7 linked regions of the Homo sapiens genome follow. The protein of the gene in region 2 interacts with the protein of the main gene of each other region in a biochemical or structural test. Each region holds a gene or a part of one and is shown on either strand. Other genes may lie near its edges.

Region 1 (3,500 bases), on a different chromosome or scaffold from region 2:
CTCGGAGGCTGAAGCAGGAGAATGTCTTGAACTCGGGAGGCAGGTTCAGCAGTTGCAGTGAGCTGAAATCACGCCACTGCACTGCAGTCTGGGCGACAGAGTGAGACTCCATCTCCGAAAAAAAAAACAAAAAAGAAAAGAAAAAAGACAAAAAAAGAAAAAAAGAAACCAGGCGTTCTAGCCACCAGGGTTCCTAGCTCTGCTCCTGACTCGCTGTGCCCCCTCCCTCATCTGGGCTTCAGTTTTTTTGGTACCTGTCAGTCGGGAGGTTGGATTTGATAATCTCCAAGCCTTCTCTGCCTCTGAAGTTCAAGGTGCAGAGGTGGGGGGTCCCAGAGGCAGGCTGAGGCCCCTGACCTCCGGGCTCCCTGCCCATGATGGTGTCTGCTCCACAGTACGTCGCTGCCCCGCCCTCGGGACTCCATCCGCAGCTGTGCCCTCAGCATGGACCAGATCCCAGACCTGCACTCACCCATGTCGCCCATCTCCGAGAGCCCTAGCTCCCCTGCCTACAGCACTGGTATGGCCAGCAGAGGGGGTGGAGCAGGTGGAGGGAATCTGTTGTTGAAGACTTCTGTCACCTATGTGTGGTTATGTGTGTTTCCGCCTCTTTTATGAGGCGCGACCTTTACCAAGAGAAAGAACTGACACTGGAATCCTGCTAACAGAACTGTTGATATCAACATATAAGATGTATCCATGGTTTGTTTATTTAGCAACTATTTATTTGTTTTTGTGACAGTTTTGCTCTTGTGGGCTGGAGTGCAGTGGTGGGATCTTGGCTCACTGCAACCTCCGCCTCCTGGGTTCAAGCGATTCTCTTGCTTCAGCCTCCCAAGTAGCTGGGATTACAGACCCCTGCCACCACGCCTGGCTAATTTTTGTATTTTTAGTAGAGACGGTGTTTCGTCATGTTGGCCAGAGTGGTCTCGAACTCCTGACCTCAGGTGATCCACCTGCCTTGGCCTCCCACAGTGCTGGGATTACAGGCGTGTGCCACCATGCCTAGCTAATTTTTGTATTTTTAGTAGAGATGGGGTTTCACCATGTTGGCCAGGGTGGTCTCGAACTCCTGACCTCAGGTGATCCACCCGCCTCAGCCTCCCAAAGTGCTGGGATTACAGGCATGAGCCACTGCACCTGGCCTCTATTTTTCTTAATAGACTTTATTTTTTAGAGCAGTTTTAGGTTTGCAGCAAAATTAAGTGGAAAGTACGGAACACTGTGCTTTCTTATAAATACGAAGAAAGTTTCTCTGTTAGAAACATTCCAATAGATCATTTCTGGAAAAAAAATAAAAAGAATGTTTTCAACAGGCCGTATTGTCCACGTGGCAGGCCAAGTGTCACGAGAGGGGGCTGACTCAGGAGGAACTTTCGCCTAGGGTGGCATTCCATTGAAGTGTTGCTGTCTGTATCGGTTGTCACAAATCCTTCCCTAAACACAGAGCCACCAACTTTGTCATAACTACAAACTTGATTTCAAAGCAATACCCTGAGTATAAAACCTAAAATTCCTTGCCAGAATGACTTATTGGACAGTTTCTAAGCAATCTGGTATAGTAAAGCAGCCCAGATGTCAAGACTTAAATCTCAGCTGTACCACTTGCTGGCTGGGTGACCTTGGGCAGGTTAGTGCACCTCTCTGAGCTTCACTTTTCTCATCTGTAGAATGAGGATTATAAAAGTACTTACTTCATAGGACATTGAAAGGATTAAATAGACTGAGGTACAAAGAAGGGTCTTGCAGGCACTAAGAGCTTAGTAAATATCGCCTTTGAGGTTTGATGATGGTTTTACTGTCATTATGTCTCCAGCATGTTGCCAGCTCCTAGCACACAAGGTTTAGCAACAAATCATTATTGCTAATTCAGGCCGGGCATGGTGGGGCACATCTGTAATCCCAGCTACTCAGGAGGCTGAGGCACAAGAATTGCTTGAACCTGGGAGGCGGGGGTTGCAGTGAGCTGAGATCATGCCATTGCACTCCAGCCTAGGCAACAGAGCGAGACTCTGACTCAAAAAAAAGTTAGCCAGGCGTTGTGGCACATGACTGTAATCCCAGCTACTCGGGAGGCTGAGGCTCAAGAATTGAAGAATTGCTTGAACCCAGGAGGTGGAGGTTGCAGTGAGCCTAGATGGCACCACTGCACTCCAGCCTGGGCCACAGAGCGAGACAGTGACTCAAAAAAAAAAAAAAAAAAAAAAAAAAGGAAATCATTATTGCTAATTCGTCGAGAAACAATCACATGTGGCACAAGAAACTCCAGCAGGTACTCAGCTTCCCCGGATCACTGAAGCTCCTCCAAGCAGTGGGTCCCCAAGGCTGCAGCAGCCTCAGGGTGGGGCCATGCAAACTCCTGGGTCCTGGTGATTTCAGAGCATCACCTGGGCTGGTCAGCTTGCCAGAGTCAATCGGCCCTGGTCTCTGGTGATGCAGGGAGGTGGGGACATCACCTCTGTACTCCCTACAAGGAGTGAGGGAGCCTGTTCTTTGGGAAGGGGTGCGGGAATCTCACTTTGGTGGGGAGCTGCTATAACGGGGCCTCTCTCTCTACCTTTCTGCAGTAACCCGTGTCCATGCCGCCCCTGCAGCCCCTTCTGCCACAGCATTGCCTGCCTCCCCTGTCGCCCGCCGTTCCAGTGAGCCCCAGCTGTGTCCCGGAAGTGCCCCAAAGACCCATGGGGAGTCAGACAAGGGCCCCCACACCAGCCCCTCCCACACCCTTGGCAAGGCCTCCCCGTCACCATCACTCAGCAGCTACAGTGACCCGGACTCTGGCCACTACTGCCAGCTCCAGCCTCCCGTGCGTGGCAGCCGAGAGTGGGCAGCGACTGAGACCTCCAGCCAGCAGGCCAGGAGCTATGGGGAGAGGCTAAAGGAACTGTCAGAAAATGGGGCCCCTGAAGGGGACTGGGGCAAGACCTTCACAGTCCCCATCGTGGAAGTCACTTCTTCCTTCAACCCGGCCACCTTCCAGTCACTACTGATCCCCAGGGATAACCGGCCACTGGAGGTGGGCCTTCTGCGCAAGGTCAAGGAGCTGCTGGCAGAAGTGGATGCCCGGACGCTGGCCCGGCATGTCACCAAGGTGGACTGCCTGGTAGGTGCTGGCTGTGCACTGGGGTGGAGGGAGCATCTCTGTTCTGTGGGGCAGGGCAGTGAGAAGCTGGCTCCCAGATTCCCCAAGTACAGCAGGTGGGCCTGGATTCTAGCTCCATGGCTGTCCTTTGCCTGCTCTGTGACTCTGGGCTGGTCATTTAGCCTCACTGGGCCTCCAGTTTCTCCTTTTAAAAAGGCCGGGGGTGGTAGCTCACACCTGAATCCCAGCACTTTGGGAGGCCGAGGCGGGCGGATCACCTGAGGTCAGGAGTTCAAGACCAGCCTGGGCAACATGGCGAAACCCCGTCTCTACTAAAAATACAAAAATTAGCTAGGCGTCGTGGTGGGCGCCTGTAATCCCAGCTACTTGGAAGGCTGAGGCAGGAGAATCACTTGAA
Region 2 (3,500 bases):
TGCAGAGCTAGGAAGGCAGTGACCGCCATAACCATCCTTTCTCTTGGAAAGCAGACTCAGGTGGCCATCCTGACCTTTGGTTCTCCCTGCCTGCAAGTGCTTCTGCTTTATGGTGGCGTGAAAATGGAACTGGCTGTAGGAGGCTGAGATGAGCTTTTATGTATGGCCAGAATCCATCTGGTCAATCGCCGTGGAATGAAAGACAGGAAAGAGGAGCTGCAGGGAGGCTCCAGGTGGGCTCACTTTGTCTCATTTGCTCAGCCATCTCACTAACTGCTGCTCTTTAAACAGTCAGAGGTTATTCTATTTTTCTTCTTAGCATCATTGTGGAACAAATAATGAATGAGGAACATAGATACTTAATGTTTTTAGATGTCCTCCACATGCACCTTACCAGTAGGTCAGGAGGTTACAAAAGGTCATGGCTGGTTAAGAGTATGGGCTCCTGGCTGGGTGCAGTGGCTCACGCCTGTAATCCTAACACTTTGGGAGGTGGAGGCGGATGGATCACTTGAGATCAGAAGTTCAAAACCAGTCTGGCCAACATGGTGAAAACCTCTACTAAAAATACAAAAAATTTAGCCAGGCGTGGTGGCACACACCTGTAGTCCCAGCTACTTAGGAGGCTGAGGCAGGAGAATTGCCTGAACCCAGGGGGTGGAGGTTGCAGTGAACCAAGATCGCACCACTGCACTCCAGCCTGGGCGACAGAGGGAGACTCTTGTCTCAAAAAAAAAAAAAAAAAAAAGCATGGGCTCAGAGGTCGGATGACCAGCAGCTAAATTGAGGCTCACCTCACTCTAGCTGTGACCCTGGGCAAACTGCTTACTGTCACTCAACCTCAGTTCTTAGTAAAACAGGGATGATGACAATACCTACCAACCATACACGACTGTTAGCTTTATTATTTTACCAACATCTTGTACCTCCTGGAGGACCTTCTATGTAACAGCATTCATTGCAACAACACTCTTCAGTTTAAAGGTTGAGTTAAAAAGATCACTTTAAAGTCCCAAGTCAAATAAACTACAACAAACTCACATGAGAAAAATCACAGGGCCAATGCTTTGAGCAAAGGCATAAGTCTTACCTCACAGGAATAGCTTTAGGCACTGTGCTGATATTATTTATTTGATATTTAGGCTTCTCTGCATGGATAGAGAAAGTTTCAACTCCACTGTCAAACTCAGGAGGCTGTGCCAAACTGTGCGATTTCACAAGAGTTTTTGGAGAAGTGGGAGTTTTTGAAGACAAGTCAGGTTTATGTGCAGTTTCACTTGGCAGAAGATTGTGATTGAATTTAGGACTTTCAAACTTGCGTTCAAATGGTCGGGCAGAACTTGTATATGGTTTTGGTGTGAATCGATTGTATGCTGGAGTGACTGTTTTCTGAGTCTGTTCAGTTCCATTAACTGGGGCTTTATCTGGAAAACTTTTCTGGGGATAGAAAGCTGCCTGAGCAGTATCTTCTCGGTTTGGTGGTCTGAAAGTTGCTGGCTTATTCTGAGATGGAGGTGGGTCTGGTTTGGACACTAAGGAATTCTGAAAATCCAATGACACTGAATTACCTGAAAAACAAACGTAAGCATTTAAATAACTTTCTGAAAAAAGTTATAATAGCCCTGTCCCAGCTTAACTTGTCCTGGTGCTGGAGTCGAGGCCCAAATGTGGGTCGCACAGCCAGAGCCTGACTCTTGAGCCCTGGAGGCTAGGTGTGATGCTGAGGGATGAGGGCAGCATGGACAGGTGGTGCCATGAATATATATACCCTGCTGCCCTGGAGTCAGGGTCCAGCTGCTAAGATTCCTGGCCTCCAAAGATTGGCACTAGTCTTTGTGAAAACTAGAATGCCCAATAATCATATAATAAGGATACTCACTATTAATTAGAAAAATGTAAAACAAAACCAACAAAAAGCATTAAATACTATTTCACACCCACTAGAATGGAAAAACCGAAAAGTCTGATGATGCCAAACATTGGTTAAAAAGTGGAACCACAGGATTTTTTATGCACTGCCAGCCACAGTGTAACACAGTACCAACTGAACTCTGTGAAATAATTAAGGACACTACAAGACAGGAGAATTATTAATCCAAATACCTCATGAATATAGTAATATAATTTTCCACAGTACGAGAAGAAAAATCATATGGTCATCTTAATACATGCAGGAAAAACATCTGACTGCTTTCAGCAAACTCTGAATATAGGGAATGTCTTAAACATGATAAAGGACATCTACGAAAATCCTAGAGCTAACATTCTAAAGGATAAAACATGAGGTCCTTCCTCCTTAAAATCAGGAACTAGCAAAAGAGGTCCAATTTCACCACTTACATTTCAGAGTTTATTGGAGGTCCTGGCCAGTGCAATCAGCAAGAAAAGAAAGAAGGCTAGGTGCGGTGGCTCATGCCTGTAATCCCAGCACTCTTGAGAGGCCGAGGTGGGCGGATCACCTGAGGTCAGGAGTTCGTGACCAGCCTGGCTAACATGATGAAACCCTGTCTCTACAAAAAATACAAAAATTAGCCGGGCGTGGTGGTGTGCGCCTATAGTCCCAGCTACTCAGGAGGCTGAGGCAGGAGAATCACCTGAACCCGAGAGGCAGAGGTTGCAGTGAGCTGAGACTGCGCCACTGCACTGTAGCCTGGGCGAGAGCAAGGCTTCGTCTCAAAAAGAGGAAAAAAAAAAAGAGAAAAGGCATAAGGACTGGAAAGTAAGAATTAAAACTGTCTTTATCTGTAAACATGGGCATGTGTGAAAAAAAATCTTAATAAAAGATAGCCTCAATCCAGAACTATAACACATCTGCTTGAAGACTCACAAGCCCAAGGAGGTGCCTCCTAAGGGAATAATAAGAGAAGTCTGTGCTAGGAAAATGCCTGTCCACAGCAGAAGAGATAACCACTTTGTGTTATATGCTGAGGGTAAAATGTTACAAAGCTCTTAAGATGAATAATCTGGAGCTATATGTGATCTACCTGGTATGTAAATGCAAAAGTCAAGGTGTATGGGATACATTTTATATGAAACATTATGGCTTTTCTATTTGGGTGTGTGAGATAAAACATAGTAGGTTTTACAAACCATCTTTACATATACTGGCAAACACTACTTCCAGAAGATTTAGAGACTAGCATAAAATAGATTAAAATCTGTTTAGCTAAAAGGCTTGTCCAAAATAATGGTCTTGTAAAAACAGGAGACATACTTTTAACAAAATTCTTAGTTTTTACTGTTCCCAGCCCAAAGGTTTCAAGCATGTATTTTTTAATGTAAAAACCATTTTGCCTAGAAACCACCAGAATTTTACTTCATAAGCATTACTGTGTTAAAATGTCTACTTCCGAACTTCCTACCTTCACCATGTGCTCCCTTAGAATGTATGTGGAGAGACGCGCTGGTGACAGGCTGAGATGGCTGGGCATACTGCGAGGGCAATGGAGGAGGAGGGGGAGTGGCCTGGATGGGTTCATAGCGTTTCTCGCCAAATGATC
Region 3 (3,500 bases), on a different chromosome or scaffold from region 2:
GCCTGTAATCCCACTTTGGGAGGCCGAGGGAGGCGGATCACTTGAGGTCAGAAGTTCAAGACCAGCCTGGCCAACATGATGAAATCTCATTTCTACTAAAAATACAAAAATTAGCTGGGCTTCTTGGCACACACTTGTAATCCCAGCTACTCAGGAGGCTGAGGTGGGAGAATCGCTTGAACCTGGGAGGCGGAGGTTGCAGTGTGCCGAGATCCTTCTACTACACTCTAGCCTGAGTGACAGAGCAAGACCCTGTCTCAAAACAAAACAAAACAAAACAACAAAAAAAAGTATTATTAAAATCACATACATAGGTTCTCTTTTAAAAAATGTTAGGCAAATAAATGTAGAGCCCCTTTGCTCACCATCCTCCAATCCCAGTTGCCTTCCCAAAGGTAACATGGTTGTCAGGCTGGCCTGAATGGGCTCAGAACATTTTGTGTGGGCAGCTGCATGCCTGTAGGGGGAATGGCGTTTGTGTGTGTGTGGGGGTGTGTGTGTTAATACTTTGCACTTCATTCTGTTAACTTGCTTTTTTTACTCAACATTACGCTTTCGAAATCTACCATACTAATACGTAGAGCTCTAGTTCCTTTTAAGCTGCTGTATAGTTTTCTTTTTCTTTTTTTTTCGCGGGGTGGAGCAGAGTTTTGCTTTTGTGGCCCAGGCTGCAGTGCAATGACACAATCTCAGCTCACTGCAACCTCTGCCTCTCAGGTTCAAGCAATTCTTCTGCCTCAGCCTCCCAGGTAGCTGGAATTACAGTCACCCACCACCATGCCCATCTAATTTTTGTGTTTTTACTAGCGACGGGGTTTCACCATGTGGGCCAGGCTGGTCTCGAACTCCTGACCTCAGGTGATCGGCCCTCCTCGGCCTCCCAAAGTGTTGGGATTATAGCCGTGAGCCACCGTGCCCAGCCTGCTGTATAGCTTTCTATCGTGTGAGCATGCTCTATCTGTCTTGCCCATTTCTCTGCTAGTGGACACGTGGGTTGTTTCTGGTTTGTCACTAATGTGCTGCTCAGGTCTGCATCCCAGTGCCTACGCGCCTGTGCTTTCCTAAGCCATATGCTCAGAGGTGAAGATGCGGGGTGACATAGTTCACACATTTCAGGTTAGAAAGATCCTGCCAAATTGTCTTCTGCGGTAGCAGCACTGGCTTACCCTCTAACCAGCAGCATGTGTGAAACTTTTCCCCCGCCATCTCACCAACTTTGCCCAGTTACCACATTATTTCATCGTGCCAGTGTCCTGGAGGAGAAATGGCATATCTGTTGTAATCTGCATTTCCCCCCTGATTTTCAGTGCTCTTTCTAATGCTCTCTTCTCTCTCTAGTTTTGGGCCTTTTGTCCTAAGGGGAGCTTACTGAAGGGGAGTCTAGAGTCTTGCCTAGGACAAGTCAATTCTGACTCCATCGGCTTCACTTCTATTGCTAAGCAACGAACCACCCAAGTAGGCGCAGACTTGGAAATGGGCAAAGTTGAAAAAAACCTCTTAAGATGTACAGAATTGCTGGGTGCGGTGGCTCACGCCTGTAATCCCAGCACTTTGGGAGGCCGAGATGGGCGGATCATGAGGTCAGGAGTTTGAGACTAGCCTGGCCAACATGGTGAAACCCCGTCTCTACTAAAAATACAAAAATTAGCCGGGCATGGTGGCACGTGCCTGTAATCCCAGCTACTCAGGAGGCTGAGGCAGGAGAATTGATTGAATCTGGGAGGCGGAGGTTGCAGTGAGCTGAGATCACCCCACTGCGCTCCAACCTGGGTGACAGAGCGAGACTCTGTCTCAAAAAAAAAAAAAAAAAAAAGATGTACAGAATCTTGCTGTATAGAAGGGAAAACTGAGGCTCAGAGAGCGGCAGGGAGGGGCCCATACATGGTGATCCACATGTCAGTGTACTGCTGTCCCTGTTCCACACAGCCCACCTCTCCTGCTGCTCTCTTTCTCCAGGACCCCGGTGCCATTTGGAGGACCCCTCGTGGGGGGCACTTTTCCCAGGCCAGGCACCCCCTTCATCCCGGAGCCCCTCAGTGGCTTGGAACTCCTCCGTCTCAGACCCAGCTTCAACAGAGTGGCCCAGGGCTGGGTCCGTAACCTCCCAGAGTCCGAGGAGCTGTAGCCCTAGCCTGAATCTTCAGTTCCCCAGTCTCGGGGGCCTGGTAACATCCGGAGCCAAGACTTGTGGACAGCACTTCACAGTTGAAGAAGGGCCTTCACACACAAAACCTGATTGCAAATGGCTTCAGAGGTCACCAAGTTCAGTCGTCCCAAAACATGGGTGTGTTTCAAAATTACCTGGGGATGTTGTTCCAAATCCAGACAACTGGACTGTCCCAGACTTGCAGCATCAGAGTCTCCTGAGTCGAGGAATCTGTATTATTAATAGCAACCAGGGCCGGGTGTCGTGGCTCACGCCTGTCATCCCAGCACTTTGGGAGGCCGAGGCAGGAGGATCACCTGAGGTCAGGAGTTTGAGACCAGTCTGGCCAAAATAGTGGAACCCCGTCGCTACTAAAAATACAAAAATGAGTCGGACATGGTGGTGCATGCCTGTAATCCCAGCTACTTGGGAGGCTGAGACAGGAGAATCACTTGAACTAGGAGGCAGAGGTTGCAGTGAGCCGAGATTGCGCCACTGCACCCCAGCCTGGACAACAGAGTGAGACTCCTTCTCAAAAGTAAATAAATAAATAGCAACCAGTACTCCAGGTGATTCCAGCATAACTTATCCATGGTTTGTGTCATTAGGAGTCCACATCCACACCTCTGCTCTTTCCTGTTCCTGTAGTGTACACTCCCCCGGTGACAGGGTGCTCACTGGCACCCCATCTTCCTGTGAATAACTCAAATAATTAGAAAATGTTCCTTTTACTGAGATGCAGTTGGTCTTCATCTATTCATGCTCTAAACAGTTCCTAAGCGCTGACTGTGCGCTAGACACTGCCAGGCCCGGGCCTCGAGGAGGAAAAGACAGTAGGGAAGACATTATAGAGCATGAAGTCACCATAATTTTCCCTAAAGCATGCTTATTGACAATTGAGGAACAAAGTGTTGTGGAGCAGAAGAAGGAGTCCCTCACCCTAGGTGTGAGATGGGATTCTGGAAGCTTCCTGAAGGATTTGAGTGGGACCTTGTGGGAGGCGTGAGAGTCCATGAAGGGGGTGTGAGGGGGAGGGTATTTCTGGAAAGTGGACCAGCATGTGCAAAAATATGGAACTGAGCACGGGTGCAGGGTGTTCTGCAGAAGGGAGAAGGCTGTGCTAGAGGAGCCAGTGAGGGCCAGCATGGGGTGGGCTTCACTAAGGAAATGGGGAAGGTTTTAGTGATGGGTCTTGCTGGGTGCTGTGTGGGGCGCATATTGGAGAAGGGTAATGCCAGAAGCCAGGAAGCCTGCAAGGGATGAGGCCATGGGAATGGAGAGAAGGGGCCACCCACTGGGCACCTAACAGGACAGGTGCAAAGTGGGGTGCTTATTAAGATTCCTTCTTTCCACT
Region 4 (3,500 bases), on a different chromosome or scaffold from region 2:
AAGCTTAAGGGAGCCCATAGCAGGAGTAGCTATCCAGATTGGGTGGGGAAGAAAAGGCTTTCTGAAAGAATGAGTCTAAGCATTTTGTAACCTTCTAATTTTTATGTCAGTTTTTTCATCTATAATATACTTTACAATGGCTGAGTAGTGTTTTATAATATGTAACTACCAGAGTTTAATCAGTCCCCTGTTATTAGACATTTAGGAGCATTCCCTGTTGTGTCGTTTTAAATAATACTGTAATGGATATCTTTATATAATCTTCAATTATTTTCTTAGATAACTTTTACTTGGAAGTGGAATTTCTGGGTCTGAGGATTAGAAATATTTTTTAAGACTTTTAACATGTATCATGAAATTGCCCTTCAGAAAGTTGTACCAGTTTATACTTCCAGCAGTAGTAGTTGAGAATGACCAGAAACCGCAGACTTTGCCAACTTGATAGGAAAAAATGATATCTCATGGCTTACTTTGCCTTTGTTGATTTACCTGTATGTATCATAGTAATTCATAGGCTGACAGCAAAATATGCCTAGCTTAAATTTAAATTTTATGATGATAACTGAACAAAAGAATCTATGTTGTTACATAGATTTCAGAATCATCATATTTAGCTATCGTATAATGTTTCATACCATTGCTATATCATGATTTATTTAACCATTCTCTGTTTTTTGGATGTGTGAATTATTTCTGATTTTTCTCCATTATCAGTAATATACTGCTTTGAAAAATGGATACCTTCAATTTTATTCTTTTCTTCAATCCAGAATATTATTATATTTAAGATCTCTGTCTCATTTGTTTTCTAAACACGTAAGTTGTAATAGCAAATTCAGAGAAATTGAGGATAGGCTATTTAATGAGATCAAGTACCTTAAGAAGCTTGTATGTTGACACTAGTCCTAGCAACTAACTTCTTTTTAATTATTGTGGCCAGAAACACCAGATGAAAATGGTAAAACCCAGAGAGCCGATGATTTTGTCTTGAAGAAAATAAAGAAGAAAAAGAAAAAGAAACACCGAGAAGACATGCGAGGAAGACGCCTTAAAATGTACAATAAGGAAGTACAAACCGTCTGTGCTGGCCTGACCCGCATCAGTAAAGAAATTCTCACCCAAGGACAAATAAATAGCACTTCAGGACTTAATAAGGAGTCCTTCAGGTATCTGAAAGATGAACAGCTGTGCCGATTAAATTTGGGTATGCAAGAATATCGGGTACCCCAGGGAGTACAAACACCTTTTATGACTCACCAGGAACATTCTATTCGTAGAAATTTCTTAAAAACAGGTACTAAATTTAGCAACTTTATTCATGAGGAACACCAGTCCAATGGTGGTGCTCTTGTCCTTCATGCTTACATGGATGAACTCTCATTTTTGTCTCCAATGGAGATGGAGAGATTTTCTGAGGAGTTTCTTGCTTTGACATTCAGTGAAAATGAGAAAAATGCTGCTTACTATGCTTTAGCAATAGTGCATGGAGCGGCTGCTTATCTCCCAGACTTCTTGGACTACTTTGCTTTTAATTTCCCCAACACTCCAGTGAAAATGGAAATTCTGGGCAAGAAAGATATTGAAACAACCACCATTTCAAATTTTCACACTCAGGTAAGATAAAAATTGTTGTTAAAAATTAGTAAATACGATTCTAAACAGAATTAACCTCTTTCTGTCGCACAGCACATACCAGCACATTTTTGATAACAAATTTATGGTAATAAAGGTGCTTCAAATTGTTTGTCTCTTCCTCTAATTGAAAAATCTTAATTACTGAGTTCGGGTGGGGCTTCTTCTTTACTGGAGGGAATGCTTTATACATGTTATACATCATTACAAATCTTTATGGAAAACTAGCTTGAAAACTTACCTGGTCTTTCACAAATCGGGTAATGTTAGTATGGAGGATGTGATTGAGATCTGTTAGTCTCAGGATAACTTTAGTTAAGATTTGCTTTTATATCATAATAAAACACGTGAGGGCATGGGCCTGTTTATATGCCAGGTTTTTGGAGTTTTTATATCTCTTTCAGTAACTTGTTGGCAGTCCATCCCAGAAATATACCCCATTTATGTGACTTGGAAGTGTCATTAGGAAGACCGCCATAGCCTCTGCTCCTTCTGCCTATACATTGTTGTAGGTGAAGACATTTTTTGAAGCCTTGCATGGGCAGCTAGGCTTAAGTCAGCAGGGAAACGTCTGCTTCTTAACCAGTGGTTTTAACCAAACATTTTTTTCAGTGAAGTTATTTTAGGGAATAAGAAGTTAATAATGTGTCCTAGTTTTTTTCTTACTTGCTTTTCTCGTAAGAATTGAATATAAATGGTCAGCTATAAGTTTCTGCAGTATATATTATAAATTCAACTTTAGTGGAGACTTTCACTTTTTAAACTTTTATGATTATATGTTCTGTTTTTTCAGGTTGTCTAGTAATTTGCTGCCATTCTTTTCCCTTAATATATATATATTTTTTTAGGTAAATAGATTGTTGCCGTAATAAGACTCTCAGCTGCCTGAATTATAGTGGTTTCAAGCCACTTAGATTTATTTGAAACCTCCTCTAACTTGAATCTTTTTAGTGAGTCTTACCATCTTTGCCTCCAATGAGGGGAGTATCCAGTTTAGATTTATGAGCTTCAGAATTTCTCTAATTGAAGTTCTCTCTGCAGTAGAGAGAGCAGGAGCAGCCAATGTGGAGAGGTCGCAAGATGGGGCTGCCCAAGATGTTGGAACACCATGTGCAATAAAGGGCTTCGTCTTGGATTTTGGCCTTATTACCACAACCAGGTACCGAAGTGCTGACTTTTGTAGTAGATTTTCTTTTTTCATTTTCATTTTTTTTTTAAGTTTTGCCCTTTGAAGGTCAAGGAATCCTATTTTTATAAATATTGCAGATGAGACTGAAAACATTTCTCCTAATATAGTCCATAATCCCCATAAGTTCCCTATTTAACAAGGAAAGATATTGCTGAGAGCAGAATCAACATGCTCTATCATTTTTTTAGTTTAGAAAAATGCAGCAAATTTTCTCTTTTGATAGACCAACAAGCATTTCTGAGAAATAAGCCAGAAATTTGGGGGAAAACTGTCCCAGTTTTGTAAGGGTGTCTTTTTAACATTCATATTAGTTAAAGTGGATCAAATTTGTATGTCAACAGACAGTATCCAGTCTAAATAGTTAATAAAAGAAAATATCTTGAAATATTCCCTGCTGATTTTTGTCCTCCAATTAATTTTTTAAAATGGAGCTGAAATTTAAATGACTGTACCAACAACTTACCTTGATACTTACTTTGAGATTTAAAAAATAACCACTTTTTAAGAACATTTCAGATTATGATTAAATTAGATATTAAACGCTTCAACCACATAAGAATATTGAGGACTGTTGAATGAGTCCTGTGCTCTGGTGGTCCTGGAACTTAATTTTATTTATGAATTTTCAGTCATTAGAGAAGAGTATGGTGTGGATATGGGAGGTTGGATTAGCCGACTA
Region 5 (3,500 bases), on a different chromosome or scaffold from region 2:
AAGTTATACTAGAGGAAAACATTGTTTTTCTAGGCCCTCAAGACAGAATATTTGAGTGTCAGGCCGTAACAGCAGAGTTAGAACCAGAGAAAAAAGCTATAGTAGCCGGGTGCAGTGACTCACACCTGTATCCCAGTACTTTGGGAGGCCAAGATGGGTGGATCACTTGAGCCCAGGAGTTCAAGACTAGCCTGGGCAATGTAGCAAAACCCACGTCTAAGAAAAATACAAAAAATAGCCGTGCATGGCGGCATGCACCTGTAGTGCCAGCTATTCAGGAGGCTGAGGTGGGAGGATGGCTTGAGCCTGGGAAGTGGAGGCTGCAATGAGCCATGACTGTGCCACTGCACTCCAGCCTGGGCAGCAGAGCAGGACCCTGTCTCAAAAAAAAAAAAAAAAATTACAGGAACTAACAAAAAACATTTAAGAGAATTACCACCCCAGCCAAGTGAAAAGATGCATCCTTTCAAGGGGAGAAAGAGGAAGGGTGGAAGGCAGCAATGTATGTCCTGGGAATCACCAGGAAAGTGAACTTCACAGTGCTCAATAAATAATTGTGTTGGCTGGGCATAGTGGCTCACGCCTGTAATCCCAGTATTTGGGAGGCTGGGGCGAGAGGATCTCTTGAGCTCAGGAGTTGGAGACCAGCCTGGGCAATATAGCAAGACCTCATCTCTACTAAGGAAAAAATAAATAAAAAGGGCCGGGCGCGGTGGCTCACATCTGAATCCCAGCACTTTGGGAGGACAAGGCAGGCGGATCACCTGAGGTTGGGAGTTCGAGACCAGCCTGGCCAATATGGAGAAACCCCGTCTCTACTGAAAATACAGAATTAGCTGGGCATGGTGGCGCATGCGTGTAATCCCAGCTACTCAGGAGGCCGAGGCAGGAGAATCGCTTGAACCCGGGAGGTGGAGGTTGCAGTGAGCCGAGATTGCGCCATTCCACTCCAGCCTGAGCAACAAGAGTGAAACTCCATCTTAAAAAAAAAAAATTAAATTAAAATAAATAAATAATTGTTGCATGTTGCCTGAATATGAACAGGTATTCTATGTAGTACCTATGGTTCCAAAGTGAGTGAGTAGCAAGCCCCCTTACCCCGAGACTGCCCTGCCTTCCTCCCTGCCCTTTGTCCCTTCTTACTTTCTGATGACAAAAGTCAAGGAAGGAGGAAAACTCCAGAAGTTTCATATCTTCTCTGCCTGGGCTTCCTTGACCAGATGCTTTCCTGGGAGACCAGGATAGGGGATGTGGAAGGAATACTGTTGACGAGCCCCTCCTCCCCAGGCACAGTGCCTCACCCAGACCTCCCTCCCTGCAGCAGGGAGGTGACCTCCTTATCCCTGTTCTACAGCTGAGAAGGCTGAGGCTCAGAAAGGCTGGGCAAGCTGCTCGAGGTCCCAGAGACGGGCGGGGGCAGGGCTCCAGCCTAGAGCTCTAGCCACTGACCCTGTGCTCTAAGTGTTCCTGTGTTACACACACTTATCTTTCTCCCCACCTCCTAGCATCCCACGGCTCTGTATTGTGTGCCTGCTGGCCCTGGGATAAGAGCTGCAGCTTCAGGGCTCCCCAAAGCTGGGTTCTTGGTATACAGAGGCTGCACTATGTCGGGGGAAGCTGCTGTTCACCTGTGCACTCTATTTTATGTAACACCGATCTCTGAGTCTCACTCTCTTTCTTTGGGTTATTCTTCCAGCTCAAGAGGTTTGGATATGGACCTTCTTCAATTCCTGGCCTTCCTCTTTGTCCTGCTTTTGTCTGGGATGGGAGCCACAGGCACCTTGAGGACCTCCCTGGACCCAAGCCTGGAGATCTGTATCCTTTGGGGTTGTAGTTAATGAGCTGTCTTTGAGAGGTCTATAAATGAGGTTCTTCTACTCAGGGATTCCAGGGATAAGCAGGCCCAGCTGGCGGGAACAGGGAGAAAAGGTGAGGTGCTCTAGCCAGACCTTGAGCAAGTCAGGTCTCTCCGGAGCTTCAGCTTCCGCGTATGGTAAATGGAGATGACAAGGCCCATCTCTAGACTGCAAAGGCTCAGTGAGGACTGTGCATGGCCTGGCACCTTGTGGGCAAGATCCTGGGTGGAGACTCAGGAATTCTGGATTACTGGCCCATCTGGACCCTGGTGAACTGGGCCACCTGCTCCAGGCCAGGCCTCAAGGACACGAAGATGAATTACAACAAGTCCCCTGGCTTTGAGGTGTCCATAAGCCCAGGGGGAGAAAGTATCCAAACAAATGATCATGTTACTCTGTGACCAGTGCTCTGATGGGCACAGGAGGGGTCAGGGAGAAACACTGTGTGATGGTTTTTGAGCCAGGCCTTGAAAGGAAAGAAACTCCTAGAGGAGGGTGAGGGGCATCCTGGGCAGAGAGGGTGCAGCGCGAGCAGAGAGGTGGAGGCTCTGGAACAGTAGAATGCTTGTGGAGACGGCAGGAAGACCACAGCAAAGGGAAGGCAGGAGCCAGGTCTGGAGGCTTGGTTTCAGGCTTCTGGGTGTGGAGCGCCATGGGAACTGGATGAATAGTGCGTTGCAGGTCCATGCACTTGTCAGTTTGTTCATTTCCTGGAGGCTTCTAGCCCTGGGTGTCCATGGCCCTTGCAGATACTTGCTGGTCAGGAATGAGCCTTCTGAGGCAAGACTGCTGGATTGTCCAGGCAGGGCTATTGATGCCAGCCCCTTAACTTAATTCTGCCCAGACAAGAAGATGTTTGAGGTGAAGCGGCGGGAGCAGCTGTTGGCACTGAAGAACCTGGCACAGCTGAACGACATCCACCAGCAGTACAAGATCCTTGATGTCATGCTCAAGGGGCTCTTTAAGGTGTGTGCAGGCAGGGGGCAGCTCATGGCAGGTCCAGTCTTTGATCTAGGCACTGATGGGTAAACAGGAGTTCCCTAACGGGTTGGTGTTCAGGGACAGGGGAACTGCGCACACGTAAGACTTGAAGTGGGGTTTAAATAAATGGGGATGGGAGCAGTCTGTGATGGGCACTGCGAAGCCACTCAGCCCTGGCGGGATTCCCTCAGGTGCTGGAGGACTCCCGGACAGTGCTCACCGCTGCTGATGTGCTCCCAGATGGGCCCTTCCCCCAGGACGAGAAGCTGAAGGATGGTATGGTCTGCCCTGCCCCGCCCTGTCCTCCGCACCACCCGATCTTCTCTAGCTGCTCCTTCTCTCCTGTTCTTGTCACTCTTTTTTTCTCCCCGGAAGTGCCCTCTTGTGGCACCTTCTAAGTGGTCCCCTTGGGCAGATGGGCGTTTCGTGAGTGGCCTCCCTAATTAACTGGCTACTTTTTAGCAATAGCATTTCTTTTTTTTTTTTTTTTTTTTTTTTTGAGACAGAGTCTCACTCTGTCGCCAGGCTGGAGTACAGTGGTGTGATCTCGGCTCACTGCAACCTCCACTTCCCGCGTACAAGTGATTCTCCTGCCTCAGCCTCCCAAGTAGCTGGGACTACAGGCACATGCCGCCACACCCAGCTAGTTTTTGTATTCTTAAT
Region 6 (3,500 bases), on a different chromosome or scaffold from region 2:
TAAATTGAGCTGTGATCCAGTAAATGGTGCTTAAGAGTAATGGCTGGCAGATAAGCTGTTACTCGGGGACATAACTCTTTTGTTTTTCAGTGTGTTTACAACAGTGCTTGTGGCAGCGGGCAAGAGAGATGACCCCCTTAACAGGCCTGTGCCTGGGCCATAGGGGACACCCCCCCAATCTCCCGCTCTGGTCACTGGTGCCACACTTGCATTTCTTTTGTTAGGAAACTGTTCTGAGCCATGGAGCTCCCTTAGGCAGAGGCAGCAGCTGGCAGACAGGACACAGCCTTCCTGGACTGGGCCTATGAAATGAGGCATGTCTCATTCTGCACTGGCCCATGAACCCGTGCATCTCACCCCTCTCAGTGTTCTGAGATTCAGAATTCTTCCTCTGCTTGAGTGCTGGGCACCAATCTCAGCTCACACTCCCAAGCTATGCACTGCAGCCCTGGGGTTTTGGGACTAGCCTGTGTCTCCACTGTCTGGCCCCTCTGGTTCAGGCAGTAGCTACACTGGGGGATCTGAAGTGCTCCAAGGATACTGAGGAAGTACTCAGGTGGGGGTCCTTGAAAAAACCCTCAGGCTGAGCAGTGGAGGCTGTGCTGTGCACATATTCTTGCAGGTGTGGCCAGGCAGGAGTACTGGGAGGGACTGGCGGGCAGAAGGGCCTACAATACAGATGTGTCCCAGCTCACAGGAAAGTTGGCCCCGCTGTCTCTTCGCTCAGAAGTCAGGTGAGTTGAGAGCTACTTGGTGGAAGAAAGAGAGCCTTGGATGTTGGGCGCCTATGGCTGCGTTCTGCTGCAGCTACCCAACATGCAAAACCCCCTGGGTTCAAGGCTGGCTGTAGTTCTATTTCTGCCTACTCTCTGGGCAGATGCCCCTGCCTGTTCCAATGTCTCTGGGGGTCGTGGGTTCTCTTGTAGGTAGGATCCCAGATGTCAACAGTGAGAGTAGGCTGTCCCACTGCCACTTTACTCACCCCTTAGCTAGGAGCCACTCAGGGCTGGAAACTATCTCTGGTGTTCAACAACCCTGCACTGGGTTTCCAGCTTTCTCTCTCTTCAGCCTCAGTGTCTGTGTCACCTCTCTATTGACTTTCAGTGTTTTCTCTCAAAAGATATGCTCGAAGTATGTTAGTTTATTCAATATTTTGGGCTTCCTCAGTGGAAGTGGTGCTTCCTGAGTGTGTCTAGTTGGCCATCTTGTACCCTCTAATAAGTTTAATTTCTTATAATAGATTTGTGTATATTTTATGGTAGTAAATGATAAAATAGTGGAGTATCTAAACATACTTTATGCACTCATGATATACCTTTTTCTTAGGGTTTCCTTTACTTCTACACTATGCAATTCATCTATAAATTTTCTCAAATTTTCACAAATCTCCCCAAATTTTTTCAATATATTTATTGAAAAAAGTCTGTGCATAAGTGGACGAGCATAATTTAAACCTATTGTTCATGGGTCCACTGTATGTTTCAAAACCTGTTAAGAAGGTAGATGTCATTTTAATTGTTCTTACCATAATAAAAGAAAAATAATAAGAAATAAAAAAGCATATGCATACAGAAACACACACCACAGAAGTTTGTGGCACGATTAAATGGTGCCATTACTCTAATCTATAAGAAAACTCACTAATATAAGATAACATTGACTTGATAACAAACTACCTAGAAATAATTATTTTCAAGTATGCACAGATCTGGGTTTAAATTTGATTTATATGATCATACCATGTCATAATCAACAACTCAGACTTCAGGAAATGATTGGTTAAATCAGTGACTCCATCTACATGCAAAGTATTTATTCATCACCTGTGACAAATGTAATTTTGATGACTTTTTTTTCTGTTCTTTCACTGTTCTACACATAGTAACTAAGGGTCATAATCGCGCTAGATAGGACGTGAGAAAAAGTTTTTCTTGGCTCACTCACAGTCTTAAAAATTGAAAAATTCTACACAAAAATTTTGGTGTTTGGATTTTCTTGGAAACCAATCAGAAGTCCTTGCCAATGCAGGGCCTAAATTTGTGCATTAAAAGAATAGGCCAGAGCTGAGGAACACAAGTGCTTTTGGATGCATGGGGAGAGCAGTTCACAACCAAAAGAATTCTCCTATTCTAACCATCACACCCTAAATTCCTGTTCCTGGCACTCTTTACTCATTTATTTTTATGTCTTCAGCTCCTTTAGGCATTGGAGTTTGCCAAAGTATACTTTGTAAGTGAAGCTCATACTCATCACTGAATAAGAGAAGATATAATGATATCTGAACATTCAATGTTAGAAATTGTATGGTGATGAATTCTCAAATAATGTAATAATTTCTTATTTAGAGAGCTTATAAAATAATTAACCTAAGGACATTTACCACGTATTTCTGTACTCTTCGTGATAAAGCAGTGATGAAACTGGAGTTGAATGAGTAGAAATAATGTACATAATGTGTAGCTACTCTAAGGCATATGTCTAAAATTGAACATGTAAAACATTTTATCAAGTATTTTCTTTATAGTTTTAGATTAGCAAACACTTTCAAGTTTTTGGCTGTTGCTGGCCCACTGTGATGTCTATCCCATCTTGGAAATGAATCCTTTGATCTCTTTGGAATGATCTATTGAAGGCCTAATGAGGTGGAAAATCATATTTATTTATTCACAAACTTAACTAATTATTATTTGCTAAGAACATGCCATTCTGTCATGTGGTAAAGAGATGGCAAGTAAGCACACAAATATTAATAGCTCATTGTGAGAAGGGTTACAATAAAGGCATGCTCTTGGCTATTAATTTGAGACTAATGGAAAGTGGTGAAGTAAGGCTTCTCTAAGAGGATCCACATTTTGGAAGAGGCTTCAAGAACTATGCAAATGAAAAAGAGGGAAAAGTTTTACCAAGTGTAAATGCAGAGAAATGTGAGATTACAGGGCACAGTAACTCAGTCAATAATTGAATAAGGTATGGATATTCATCAAAAGGAGGAATATAGGGAATACAGTGGGGTTGGAGGTAAGGTGATGAGATCAGATTTTGACATATTGTGCTTTAGGTACTAATAAGATATCTAAGGAGGGAAAATGGATGAAGAAGCACTGGAAATATCAATTAACGCAAATGATAGAAATATACCCATTTACAAATCTATAGTAAAGTAGGTAGAAATTGATTGTGTTTCACTAATAACAGAAGCAGATTATACTGGATTTAGAAGTGGATGGGAGGTGAGAAGGTGAGATATCTTAGCTAATTTAGCTGATATTTTCCTAGGTGCTTGGTTCTAAAGAGGAATAAAAAAAGGATTCAGCTGGAAAGTTGTGTGGGGGTATAAAAAACTGTATCTACATATAAAGATGGGAAATACTTGGGTGTGTTTGCTGAATAAAAGAGAAGATGGAGATAAAGAAGCGGGAAGGGAGAATCTAAGCTCCAGCTAGATCTATCAACATTGGATACAGATGTATATATTTTCCACTGAGCTGCAAAAAAGAAAA
Region 7 (3,500 bases), on a different chromosome or scaffold from region 2:
ACAGAGTTTCGCTCGTCGCCCAGGCTGGAGTGCAATGGCACGATCTCGGCTCACTGCAACCTCACCTCCTGAGTTCAAGCAATTCTCCTGCCTCAGCCTCCCGAGTATGCATGCCCAGCGAATTTTGTATTTTTAGTAGATACAGGGTTTCTCCATGTTGGTCAGGCTGGTCTTGAACTCCCAAACTCAGGTGATCTGCCCGCCTCGGCCTCCCAAAGTGCTGGGATTACAGCGTGAGCCACCGCGCCTGGCATAGTTTTTAGTATTTAAATTAAAATGTCGGGGCCGGGCGCAGTGGCTCATGCCTGTAATCCCAACACTTTGGGAGGCCGAGGCAGGCGGATCACGAGGTCAAGAGATTGAGACCATCCTGGCCAACATGGTGAAACCCCGTCTCTACTAAAAACACATAAATTAGCTGGGCTTGGTGGCATGTGCCTGTAATCTCAGTCACTCGGGAGGCTGAGGCAGGAGAATCACTTGAACCTGGGAGGCAGAGGATGCAGTGAGCCGAGGTCACGCCACTGCACTCCAGCCTCGCAACAGAGCAAGACTCCGTCTCAAAAAAAAAAAAAAAAAAAGTGTTGGTTTATCCATGTATACCATTGATTAAATCAGAGATTCTGTGAGCCTGGGTGGAAAGTTGTGGAAACCAGAAGATCTATGCTGGTAAATACTTGGGACATTTTATGTTTAGTGTTGAATATGCTACCAAATATGGGATTTAACATTGAATTTTTTTCTTTTTTTTTTTCAACTTTTATTTTAAATACAGGGGGTCCATGCGCAGGTTTGTTACATGGGTATACAGCACCCAGGTAGTGAGCACAGTATGCAGTAGGTGGCTTTTGACCCATGCCGCCTCCTCTCCCGCTCTGGAGGTCCACAGTGTCTGTCCTTCCCATGTTTATGTCCATGCGTGCTCAGTGTTTGGCTCCCACTTACAAGTCAGAACATGCTGTTGGTTTTCTGTTCCTGTTGCATTAATTTGCTTAGGATTACGGCCAGCGGTTCCATCCATGTTGCTGTAAAGGACAAGATTTCATTCTTTATTTTTATTTATTTATTTATTTATTTATTTATTTTTTAATTTATTGGAGACAGAGTTTCACTGTTGTCACCCAGGCTAGAGTGCAATGGTGCGATCTCGGCTCACTGCAACTTCCGCCTCCCAAGTTCAAGCAATTCTCCTGCCTCAGCCTCCCGAGTAGCTGGGATTACAGGTGCCCACTACCACGCCCAGCTAAGTTTTTGTATTTTTAGTAGAGGCAGGGGTTTACCATGTTGGACAGGCTGGTCTTGAACTCCTGACCTAAGGTGGCCCACCCGCCTCGGCCTCCCAAAGTGCTAGGATGGCTTATGAGCGTGAACCACCGTGCACAGCCCAGATTTCATTCTTTGTTATGGCTGTGTAACACTGAATTTTTCAAACCTTTTACTCCTTGGTTCCTGTTAATCCTCTCTAGCTAAGATGACTGCAACACTGAAGGAAATGTTATTAGATTTCTAAGCATTTTAATAATTATAAGGAATTGGTTTGTGACCCAGGTGAACATCTCAGTTTGTCCCCTGGTTTTTCTTAGCTGCCCTCAAACCCATGGATTTGTTCAGTACTTGCATGCATAGAAAGCATCTCTTTGTTGGGATTATTTGTACTTAAGAGGTTTATTCTTCATTCACCAAATATCCTTTATTTAAAATTTTTTTTCTTGAGCCAAAAATATGTGTGCAAGTTAGTCTCTTACTAATCATATAGAACCGTGCCTTATTTTGAATGTTCTTATTCTGAATTAGAAGGTGGAAGCAGGAGCACCTGTCACAGCTCCCTGGAATCGACACCCTGCTCCGAATTTCCTGGGGACAGTCCCCAGTCCTTGAACACAGACTTGCTGTCGATGACCTCAAGTGTCCTGGGCAGTAGCGTGGATCAGTTAAGTGCAGAGTCTCCAGACCAGGAAAGCAGCTTCAATGGTGAAGTGAACGGTGTCCCACAGGAAAATACTGACCCCGAAACGTTTAATGTCCTGGAGGTGTCAGGATCAATGCCTGATTCTCTGGCTGAGGAAGATGACATTAGAACTGAAATGCCACACTGTCACCATGCACATGGGCGGGAGCTGCTCAATGGAGCGAGGGAAGATGTGGGAGGCAGTGATGTCACGGGACTCGGAGATGAGCCGTGTCCTGCAGATGATGGACCAAATAGCACACAGTTACCCTTCCAAGAACAGGACAGCTCTCCTGGGGCGCATGATGGGGAAGACATCCAACCCATTGGCCCCCAAAGCACTTTTTGTGAAGTCCCCCTCCTGAACTCACTCACTGTGCCTTCCAGCCTCAGCTGGGCCCCAAGTGCTGAACAGTGGCTGCCTGGGACCAGAGCTGATGAAGGCAGCCCCGTGGAGCCCAGCCAAGAGCAGGACATCCTAACCAGCATGGAGGCCTCTGGCCACCTCAGCACAAATCTCTGGCATGCTGTCACTGATGATGACACAGGTCAGAAAGAAATACCCATTTCTGAACGTGTCTTGGGGAGTGTGGGAGGACAGCTGACTCCGGTCTCTGCCTTGGCAGCCAGCACTCACAAGCCCTGGCTTGAGCAGCCTCCACGGGATCAGACATTGACGTCCAGCGATGAGGAGGACATCTATGCCCACGGGCTTCCTTCTTCATCCTCAGAGACGAGTGTGACAGAGCTCGGACCTAGTTGCTCCCAGCAGGACCTGAGCCGGCTGGGTGCAGAGGACGCCGGGCTGCTCAAGCCAGATCAGGTATGTGGGTTCGGGTGGTGGGAAAAGTAGCTGAGGCTTCTTTCTTAAGGGTAATAATTGTCAAGACTGATTATTTTCCTTCTCATGGAAAGAAATTCTATTCCTACTGCAAAATCCGTAGGCCAACTCTGTTTTCAAGTCTGGGTTTCAGGGGATTTCCAGCACAGGGACTATGAATGGCTTGAACTACTTCTGACCTGTTCTACCCTGCTCAGTAACCTGCCTCCCCAACCAAGGTAGCGTCTTGCTGTTTCCTCTGACCCCACAAGTGCAGGCTGGTGTAGGCACTTACTGTTAGCCATCGTAGGGCAGGGCTGAATTGGCCTGGGGCCATCTCAGAAAACCAGTGGGCAGAGGACTGTCCACCTGTGGAGTAGAGAAAGCTCTGAGCAGTTTGGAGGCAGGGAGTCTCCTGTCCTTCTCCTCACACCCCTCCAAGGAACCATCTGCAAGAGCACGAGGCCATTTCCAGAACTGCTGTCTCCTCAACCTCCGAACAGTGGCTCCAAGGCTCCCCTGCGAGCTGTACAGGAACCAGTTTGGAGTAACCAGTCTTTGTAGGTCCACCCAGCACATGTAACTAGGAGATGACTTTTAACTGTCCTTGAGCATTTTATATTAAAAGTGATTTTTTTAAAAGTGCCTACTTCCCTTAGCAAGTAATTATTACTAGATATATTTGTTTCAAAACTGTGTCTTGCCCTGTCTCCTACTAACTGTCGATGTGAG

The links.
Region 1: the proteins of TJP1 (region 2) and SH2D3C interact in a test that uses a peptide from one of them, tested with the Homo sapiens proteins (one large-scale study listed by IntAct).
Region 3: the proteins of TJP1 (region 2) and MYOZ3 interact in a test that uses a peptide from one of them, tested with the Homo sapiens proteins (one large-scale study listed by IntAct).
Region 4: the proteins of TJP1 (region 2) and RSBN1 interact in a test that uses a peptide from one of them, tested with the Homo sapiens proteins (one large-scale study listed by IntAct).
Region 5: the proteins of TJP1 (region 2) and CCDC134 interact in a test that uses a peptide from one of them, tested with the Homo sapiens proteins (one large-scale study listed by IntAct).
Region 6: the proteins of TJP1 (region 2) and SLCO1B1 interact in a test that uses a peptide from one of them, tested with the Homo sapiens proteins (one large-scale study listed by IntAct).
Region 7: the proteins of TJP1 (region 2) and TECPR2 interact in a test that uses a peptide from one of them, tested with the Homo sapiens proteins (one large-scale study listed by IntAct).

Annotation. Positions count from the first base shown.
Region 1 is NC_000009.12:127,744,167-127,747,666, reverse strand, and holds part of SH2D3C (SH2 domain-containing protein 3C), read left to right. Parts: intron 1-395; coding exon 396-520; intron 521-2,567; coding exon 2,568-3,103; intron 3,104-3,500. UniProt on the Homo sapiens protein: Acts as an adapter protein that mediates cell signaling pathways involved in cellular functions such as cell adhesion and migration, tissue organization, and the regulation of the immune response.
Region 2 is NC_000015.10:29,707,469-29,710,968, forward strand, and holds part of TJP1 (tight junction protein 1), read right to left. Parts: coding exon 3,363-3,500; intron 1,569-3,362; coding exon 1,091-1,568; intron 1-1,090. UniProt on the Homo sapiens protein: TJP1, TJP2, and TJP3 are closely related scaffolding proteins that link tight junction (TJ) transmembrane proteins such as claudins, junctional adhesion molecules, and occludin to the actin cytoskeleton.
Region 3 is NC_000005.10:150,674,751-150,678,250, forward strand, and holds part of MYOZ3 (myozenin-3), read left to right. Parts: intron 1-1,956; coding exon 1,957-2,125; 3' UTR 2,126-3,500. UniProt on the Homo sapiens protein: Myozenins may serve as intracellular binding proteins involved in linking Z line proteins such as alpha-actinin, gamma-filamin, TCAP/telethonin, LDB3/ZASP and localizing calcineurin signaling to the sarcomere.
Region 4 is NC_000001.11:113,795,477-113,798,976, reverse strand, and holds part of RSBN1 (lysine-specific demethylase 9), read left to right. Parts: intron 1-940; coding exon 941-1,614; intron 1,615-2,673; coding exon of another isoform or gene 2,674-2,676; exon of another isoform or gene 2,677-3,500. UniProt on the Homo sapiens protein: Histone demethylase that specifically demethylates dimethylated 'Lys-20' of histone H4 (H4K20me2), thereby modulating chromosome architecture.
Region 5 is NC_000022.11:41,807,179-41,810,678, forward strand, and holds part of CCDC134 (coiled-coil domain-containing protein 134 isoform 1 precursor), read left to right. Parts: intron 1-1,696; 5' UTR 1,697-1,712; coding exon 1,713-1,815; intron 1,816-2,700; coding exon 2,701-2,822; intron 2,823-3,028; coding exon 3,029-3,113; intron 3,114-3,500. UniProt on the Homo sapiens protein: Molecular adapter required to prevent protein hyperglycosylation of HSP90B1: during translation, associates with nascent HSP90B1 and the STT3A catalytic component of the OST-A complex and tethers them to a specialized translocon that forms a microenvironment for HSP90B1 folding.
Region 6 is NC_000012.12:21,179,694-21,183,193, reverse strand, and holds part of SLCO1B1 (solute carrier organic anion transporter family member 1B1), read right to left. Parts: intron 1-3,500. UniProt on the Homo sapiens protein: Mediates the Na(+)-independent uptake of organic anions.
Region 7 is NC_000014.9:102,432,441-102,435,940, forward strand, and holds part of TECPR2 (tectonin beta-propeller repeat-containing protein 2), read left to right. Parts: intron 1-1,794; coding exon 1,795-2,771; intron 2,772-3,500. UniProt on the Homo sapiens protein: Probably plays a role as positive regulator of autophagy.